Regions from separate parts of the Homo sapiens genome. Here regions 1 and 2 are each linked to region 3. The links come from fine-mapping of genetic effects on gene expression. A gene starts in region 3. Each other region holds a variant in brackets. All regions are shown on one strand. Distances are between the middles of the regions.

Region 1 (2,756 bases), 86 kb after region 3:
TCTATTAACAGAAGGGTATATACAATATTACAGTAAGGTTTCCCTGGGGAATAAGATTTTAGGTCATTTTTCACTTCTTATTGGTTATCTGTACTTTTAAATTTCTTACAATGAATATGTACTACCTATAGAATTCTTCTTCTGTTATTTTAGAAAGAAAATCCAAAAGCCTCAAAATTTAGTAAGGGTAAACAGAATTAAACAATCTTGAAAGGGGCCAGGTGTGGAGGCTCACGCCTGTAATCCCAGCACTTTGGAAGGCCAAGGCAGGCAGATCACAAGGTCAGAAGTTTGGAACCAGCCTGGCCAATATGGTGAAACCCTGTCTCTACTAAAAATATAAAAATGAGCCAGGCATGGTGGTGGGCTCCTGTAGTCCCAGCTACTCTGGAGGCTGAGGCAGGAGAGTCGCTTGAACCTGAAAAACGGAGGTTGCAGTAAGCCGAGATCATGCCAGTGCACTCCAGCCTGGGCGACAGAGTGAGACTCCAACTCAAAAAAGAAAAACAAAACAACAACAACAACAACAAAACATGTTTTCAAATGCTATAAAGAACATGATTGGGTCAACAAACTAACTAGAAAACCGACAGCAGATAAGATCCAAGTATTGTATCAATGTTAAATTTCATTAGGTTGATGGCTGTACTAAGCCTATGTAAGACAATGTCTTTGGCTCTTAGAAAATATATACTGAAGTTCTCAGGGGTAAAGGGGATGGGGGACGACGTATGCAACTTACTCTCAAATAATTTGGCAAAAAATGCAGTAGTAAAGCAAATGTGACTAGAAGAAATGTTAACAATTGGTGAATCTGAGTAAAGGGTAAGAAAATTGTACAATTTTTGCATTTTTTATAAGATTAAAGTTATTTCTTTTTTTTATTCTTGTTTTCTTGAGATGGAGTCTCGCTCTGTTGCCCAGGCTGGAGTGCAGTGGTGTGATCTCGGCTCACTGTAACCTCCACCTCCCAGATTCTCCTGCCTCAGCCTCCTGAGTAGCTGGGATTACAGGCGCACGCCATCTCGCCCAGCTAATTTTTGTATTTTTAGTAGAGACGGAGTTTCACCATGTTGCTCAGGCTGGTCTCGAACTCCTGACCTCGTGATCCACCCACCTCGGCCTCCCAAAGTGCTAGGATTACAGGCGTGAGCCACCGCGCCTGGTGATTAAAGTTATTTCTAAGTAAAACATTTTTAATTGAAAAAGTTTAAAAATCAACACATTCAAAATTGTTCTAACAAAAATACTTAAGAGCATGTTGGGCCAACTTCCAGCAAGACTTTATGTGGAAAAATATAGGAACATATTAAAAAATTCTGCTAATAAAAACATATGCAGGACCAACTTTAAGCAAAATTTTAAATCAGCACCATCTAACAGAAATACAATGTGAGCCACATACATAGTATTAAATTTTCTAGGAACCATATTAGAGTGAAAAGAAACAAGTGAAATTAATTTTAATGTTTTATTTAGCCCATGTCTAAAGTATTGTTTCAATTTAGTCAATACAAAAATTGAGATTTTAATTCTTCTGTATTAAATCTTCAAAATCTGATGTGTATGTTACACTTCCAGTACATCTCAATTCAGAAGCTAAA[T/C]TTTCATAGGAAATACTTGATCTACATTTAGATTTCATAAAATGTACAGTTTAAAAGTAAATTCGCATAACCAAATTATTTCAGTTAAAAGTTTTCCAACCACTGAATCAGATTTTAAATGTAAACTTAAATTAATTAAAATTAAATAAAATGAAAAATTCACTCCTCATTCACACTAGTCACCCTACAGACTCAATAACCACATGTGGCTTGTGGCTACACCCTGGGAAAGCCTGGCTTTAGATGGTAAAACAAATTCCCTCTACAAAAGGAGGAACTAATTGATAAAACTGAAGTTTATCGTATTTATCAAAAGATTTTTAAAACATAGTTATGATAAAAATAACGGGCCGGGCGCTGTGGCTCACGCCTGTAATCCCAGCACTTTGGGAGGCCGAGGCAGGTGGATCACCTGAGATCAGGTGTTCCAGACCAGCCTGGCCAACATGGTGAAACCCTGTCTCTACTAAAAATACAAAAATTAGCTGGGCGTGGTGGCAGGCGCCTGCAATCCCAGCTACTTGGGAGTCTGAGGCAGGAGAATCGCTTGAACTCGGAAGGCGGAAGTTGCAGTGAGCCCAGAGATCCCACCATTGCACTCCAGCCTGGGACAGAGCGAGACTCCGTATCAAAAAAAAAAAAAAAAAAAAGACGATATTCCTATCAGAAGCACACCAAGGTTTCTCTCCAAGGTACAATTACACATCTCCCATACCACCTGTCAGAAACACCAACACAAAGCCTTCTCTACTCTGCCTCAGTTGACATCCTTTAATTTGGGTTTGAGTTTCCAGAAAACTGGCAATCAAATGGCCTTCTTTCTTTCAAATGTGACAGAACAAACTCAAGTTCCGGTTCTCAGGAGCCTAGTCATCCACTGCACAGTATGCGGGGTTTCAGCACAATACTGTCTCAGTCCCAAATGGGAGCATGCACACAGGAGAACTTGTCTCGGATTTAAGAGAGGAAGTGACCCTGAGTCCAGAGGTGAGCTTTTTCTTTTTAAACAGGTGTAAGAGATTAATTCAGTCAACACCAAGCAACACTAAAGATTTGCCAATCAATAATTCTGTGCCAAGCAACTTGATCAGGGATTTGGCCAGAATCCCTTTCGCTAATCTCAATCAGGGCCTTCCCAAAGACATCCTGATT
Region 2 (2,756 bases), 34 kb after region 3:
GCTCCACTGGTAACTCTCTCCTGACTCACCAGTCCTTATACATCAGCATGACAATCTAGGGAGAAGCTATTACTTTTCTTCAGCTATGAGAACCATGCTACCCAAAGCCAAGTACCATGAAGATGAAGAAATTGTCAAGGTTTACCCTGTCCATTCGGTTGCGGTGCCGAATCTCCAGCTGCTCCTTAGCCTTCTGGAAGCGAGCATGCTCATTATCATCTGCAGAGGTCTCGAAATACACATCAACATCATTGGTTGGCAGAGGAGTTGGAGGAACTGAAACAAAATTACAGAGGGAGTTCTCTTTGGGATCAGATGCACTGTGCTCTAGGAAGAAAACCCAGCTCAGGACCTGCAGGATGGACTCAATTTGTTTTGTGGCATTCTCTAAGTGCAGGGTGCTGCTATCTGCCAAGACTTCACTTGGTTAGATTACAGTGGGCAATCTTCCTTACACAATATTCATCAACCATGTCAGCCCACGCTAATACAGCAATTTATTGGCAGCTTCAGCACCAGTGAGGCATCTACTTAAGACCTCAGGGCTGAAAAAGAGGTGGTTTCTTCTATACCTTCCCTTCAGTGCTCGAACCCTGGAAACCTAAACAATAGCTACCTTATTGCTCGTAACTGAGCATCTGAACAGAGACAAGGGCAGGAATCAGACCCTGTAGAGGCACTTTTATGCAATTCCTTATTTTTAAAGAAATTTATTACTCAGGTACCTCTGCTCTTCTGGCTATCTTTGAGTCTTAATTTACAACAGAAAACAGGCTCAAGTGAATGTTCTTTGCATATACGCTGGGTAGAGAAAGTCCCCATCACTCCAGCTATAATTTTGAGTTTTCAGTATCAGTGAAGGACTCTTAGCCCCACCATCAGTGACAGAACCAACAAGGATAAAACTGAGTTGCTCTATTTGACAAGGACACCTTTCACCGATATGAAGATAGGGCTTTTTGATCCATGACACTGACCAATAGGGCTTCCCAAGCGTTCCCCAGAGCACAGGCCCATTGGAGCACCCCCGACTGCTGGATGGGCATAATCTCTCATGGGGCCCAAGCAAGTCTCTGCACGATGGAATTTAGCCTGATAAGGGAAAGGACTGAGATGACAAGTTTACTCAGTCAGCCTCTCAAGACATACCTAAGGTAACACTTA[C/T]TAGCCTAATTCATGCAAGATTTCCCAAGCTGGTGTGGACTTGCTTGATAGATTATGACACAATTTCAGAGCTAAGTGGAGAGTGAATGCCAAGGTTCAACTGATTTTTAATTCAGAAGCAAATTCACCTAATTTCTAGAATTGTATCATTTTAATACATTAAAACAACCATATAATTGATGAATACAGCTACAAATTAGCCAGCCAGTTCAACTTTTTTCTGTCGGAAGCATCTTTTATTTGCCCATTTAACAGACCTAAAAACGACAACTAAAGTCATGAAGAATATGAGCCCTACATAAGTTTTAAAAGGGTGTCAATATCCCACTTTCAGATTAACTAAATTAGAATCGATAACTTGGTAAATGCCATTCCCCAAGACACTCGCAAGTTCAGTGGAGGAGAATTTCAAGCACTGCAGTCCATCATGCGGATCAGTGACACATGCCTGTGCTATAAAGGCCTGAGCGCTGGAGACGGAGCCTTTGGTTCACATTGCTGGACTGGAAAAAGGGAACAGCAAACACAGGCTGCTTCCAGCCTCCCTGGGACCAGAGTGGAGAGGACAGCGGGCCGAAATGCTTTTTTCTGAAGACACCCTCGGTCCCTGTGGAATCACCCACTCATGAAGCCGGCACATCCGCCAGCCTCAGCCCCTTCAAAGAAGAACAAAAACGCTCCCACTGGAAGTAAACTTGATGCTTCTCAACCTGCAAAGCCCTCCAGGCAGAGGCCCCACAAGAACATGAACACAAAGCTTCTCCGAGGCAAATCTCATCCAAGCCACAGCAAACGGGAGTTTTACAGACCTGCCACTCCATCATGTCTCACAGCACCACCCAGCTGACCCTTCGGGTAGAGATCACCACCTCCACACTCAGTGGGATTCCTCAGGCTTCAGTCCAAGTTTTACAAAGCAGTAAGTATCACAATAATTTCTATTTCTAAATCTTTCCTGAAAACGCAAAGTTTATTCACCAAGGTTCCCTAAGGCCTCCTTTTCTTTCACCTTTCAACTGTTACCGAATAAAAACAGCTTTCCTGGAGCTGGAAGGGAAGCACTCAAGGCACTGCCATATTACATTAAGATTTGAAAGATCTTTTGGTAGAAGGAAGGAAGAGGGAACATGAAGGCATGTGAATGAAAAACCGTCAGAAGCTATAGCCAAATTCTTCATAGCAAATTATTACTCCAACAAATTCCAGAGTAGGAACCAAGAAAAACTGTCTGGCCTGAGGATTTTCCTAATGTGTAGGTTAGTGCTGCAAGGTGAGAGACTGAAGGTCTTAACGAGAAAAAGGAGTAGCCATGGAGAAAAGGGAAAACTCTTGGTAGAAACTCTTTCTACCAACGTCCAGCATAAACCCAACTCAACTGAACCACTGACCTTCCTGTCACACCAAAGCACACACCAACTGAAATCCTCTCACTTCCTAAAGCTGTGTGACCCGGTTGCAAAATATTGAAGAAACAGAGTGAGTCACTACCACTTGGCTGCTAGCTCTCTCTAGAGTGCATTATGCAAGATATTTCAATATTCTAGACTGCCCAAAGTACTTCACTGTCACTCCTTTCGAGAGGAGGCGCCCCA
Region 3 (2,756 bases):
AAAATAGCAGAGCCCAGCCCCAGGTCCTGTCTGTGGTGCAGGCAGCCTCCAAAGCCCCAGCGTCTGATTTTCTGCAAGCTCCCTAGGTCGGGATGCTGCTTGGACAAAAGGAATTGATCTGAGACAGCACCAAAATCAGGCCTGACTTAGGGAGCAACGGCGGAGACTATGGAGCCCAGGGGCACCCGGAAGGAGGGGAGAAAGTGAGGGTTGGCAGGGCAGGGAGGCCATCATTTGCAGAGGAGCAAAACTCTCTGCCACACAGCCCCTGCCTCTCAGCGCCGCCCTGACCTGGTATGCCCTGGCCTTCCAGGAAACCTGGGGGTCTGCCTTGGACAGAGAGGGTAGAGACCTGGCTGCTGGTCCCGCCCGGGCACTACCACCTAGGTGGGTCCGTCAATGAAGTGACTAGCGACCCATCCCCAACTCCATACAGGAACATGTAATCTTTTTGAGATCTTTCAATAGGTCTTTCATTGTTCTTTCTGCCAAAGAAGAGCTTCCTGTTTCGGTACTTCGCAAAAGGCTCAAGACATGTGTGTTCCCACATCCCTTCCCATACAGCCGCCTTCCCAAAGGGCTCCATCCCCTCTCGAGAAGCCCAGGCAAGCCCAACTCTGGAGTTCTTAGCTCCAGCCCGTATGGCAGCCAAAGCCCTGGCCTCCCAGTTGTCCTCTGCGAGGTCCCAAAGCGCCTTTTGACGGGGAAGGAGAGAGACGAAAGAAACTTTCTGCAGAGGCCAAGGATGGCTGAGACTCCAAACCCTCCTGAAATTTCACTTCCTCCCAAATAACCCCACTCCAAGCCCCTGGTTTCTTCCAGATGTTCACTAACAGCGCGAGAGTCATGGAGGGGCCGAGACGGAGCCCCTTTTTTCAACTCAGGGAAAGAAAGGACCGAGGGCGCAGGAAGGCCCAGGGGCTTCCCGCCTCCCCCTGGCGGGGCGCAGCCGGTCCGGTACCAAAGGTCCGGCCAGCCCCGCCCGCCCGCGGCCCGGCACCCGCTGAACAGGAAATTCCACCTGTGCGCCCAGAGCTCGGCCACCGACGGACACGCCAGGGGAGCCGGCCGAGCCCAGCGCCGCGCTGCAGGGTCGGGCGGGCAGGAGCTTCCCAGCGCCCCGGGTCCCCGGCCCGCGCTCACCTCGTGCCGGGAGTTGTACTTGAGTCCCGCGCCGAAGTCCTTCGGGCCCCCTCCGCCCTTGCGGGCCCGATCGCTCCCCATGGTCCCCGAGGCCGCTCGCGGGTCTCACAGGCGTCGTCCCTGCCGGCGGCCGGCTCCCATGGCCCGCAGGGCGCGGGGCGCGGGGCGCAGGCGGCGGGATTCCGGGCAGGCCCAGCGCGCCCGACCGGCGGCGGTGCCCTCGCCCTGGCGCGCTCTCTCTCCCTCTTCCTCTTTCTCCGGCTGCAGCTCCGCTCTCACACTCCGGCCCGGCCCACGCAGGTAGTTTCAGGGTGTGGCCTCGGCCCGCCCAGCCCGCCGCGCTCGCCTGCGCACCTGCCCGGCTCACCTGCCCGCCCCCGCCGGCCCTGGGGGAGGCTCCTCCCCTCGGCTCTGGGCCTGAAGGTGAGGGGGCCTCACTCGGGTGGTGGTCGCTAAGGCCCTCACCATCACCACGACGGCGTTCACCACCCCTCCGGCCCTCCAGGGGCCCTGCCCCGGGAGGGCAGCCCTTTATCCACCTCCTTGATGCCAACCATCTTTTCCCTCCTCCCTCATGCGCCTCCGGTCTCTCCCCTTCACCTTGCTCACTTTGCTACAGGACTAAATCGCATTTATGAACCCCCCAAAACCAAACAGAAACCAGAACCGCCCCTGGCCCAGGCTCCCCGTCGGCTACGCAGCCTCCTGTTCTCCAGGCGGGAGGCGCTTGCTGGCCTGCGCCCGGCTACCCTGGGGAGGCCCAGTGACATGAGCTGTGCCACCAGATGCCCTCTGAGCCATCCCAACGCCCCTCGCCCACTTGCAGCATCTGATGCTTCCTCAAATGCCCCCTTTCCCTGGATTCCGGTCCTCCTTTCTAGTCCTAAATGTCATGATTCCCAAAGTTCTCCCTTCAGTTTCATCCCTTTCTTCTCTAAGCTTTTTCTCTTGGCAGCACGTCTCATCTTACGACTTCAGACAGGAAGACCTCCCTCCCAGCACAGACACCACCAAGGAGTGCCAGTTCTGCCTTAGCGGTCGCCTGGGGACGTCTCCATTTATGTTCTACTGTATTCTGTAGCCAATGAACATTACCAAGCACACACTAGGCGCTAAGCACTGTCCTGGGTACAGGGAAACAGGAGTGAACAAAATAAAAATCCCTGCTTTGAGATCAACAAGCCCCATCTTCCTTCCCTGACTTGCCCATTTTCCACTGTTTTCTCTAATTCTAATGGCAGCATTCTCCCAGGCTCAAATCCTGGAATCATCTTTGATTCTCCACCCTGCTTACATCTCATATCCAATTAGTTCCAAATCTGATCAAGACTCTGCTGACAAGCATAGCCCTTCCATTCCTGCGCATTAGAAGACCGCTATTCGAGTCCTCAGAGCCCTTTGCCTGGTTAAGAAAGATCTCCTGCCTCTGGGCTGCCACCCTCTGATCTCTCCTACACAAAGCAGTCAGGTAAATCTGAAACCACAGCTCCTTTATGACTTTCCGTGTCTCCCGGATCAAATCCAACCTCCTTAGCCCAGCTTCACACTCTGCCCTGTCCTCCCTTAACACCGTGCCTCCAAGCATTCCTGTTTGGAGCCCCTCTCTCCAGCCA

What was found. PIP is the estimated chance that this variant, and not a neighbour inherited with it, causes the effect.
Region 1: its variant is fine-mapped to the expression of ST14 in whole blood (INTERVAL, PIP above 0.99).
Region 2: its variant is fine-mapped to the expression of ST14 in whole blood (TOPMed, PIP above 0.99).

What each region holds. Positions count from the first base shown.
Region 1 is chr11:130,071,973-130,074,728 of GRCh38, reverse strand. All of the region lies in intron 1 of APLP2 (amyloid beta precursor like protein 2), which reads right to left. Among named protein-coding and RNA genes, the nearest start is that of APLP2, 3.5 kb to the right of the region's middle. The variant T/C (reference allele first, on the strand shown) is at 1,605.
Region 2 is chr11:130,124,220-130,126,975 of GRCh38, reverse strand. APLP2 (amyloid beta precursor like protein 2) reads right to left here. Exons shown (of 17, transcript NM_001142276.2): 8 at 146-276. Among named protein-coding and RNA genes, the nearest start is that of ST14, 34 kb to the left of the region's middle. RefSeq lists an enhancer at 2,751-2,756. The variant C/T (reference allele first, on the strand shown) is at 1,165.
Region 3 is chr11:130,158,448-130,161,203 of GRCh38, reverse strand. It overlaps ST14 (ST14 transmembrane serine protease matriptase), which reads right to left and starts at 1,422. Exons shown (of 19, transcript NM_021978.4): 1 at 1,144-1,422. The coding sequence starts at 1,224. RefSeq lists an enhancer at 1-186 and silencers at 1,274-1,343, 1,424-1,543.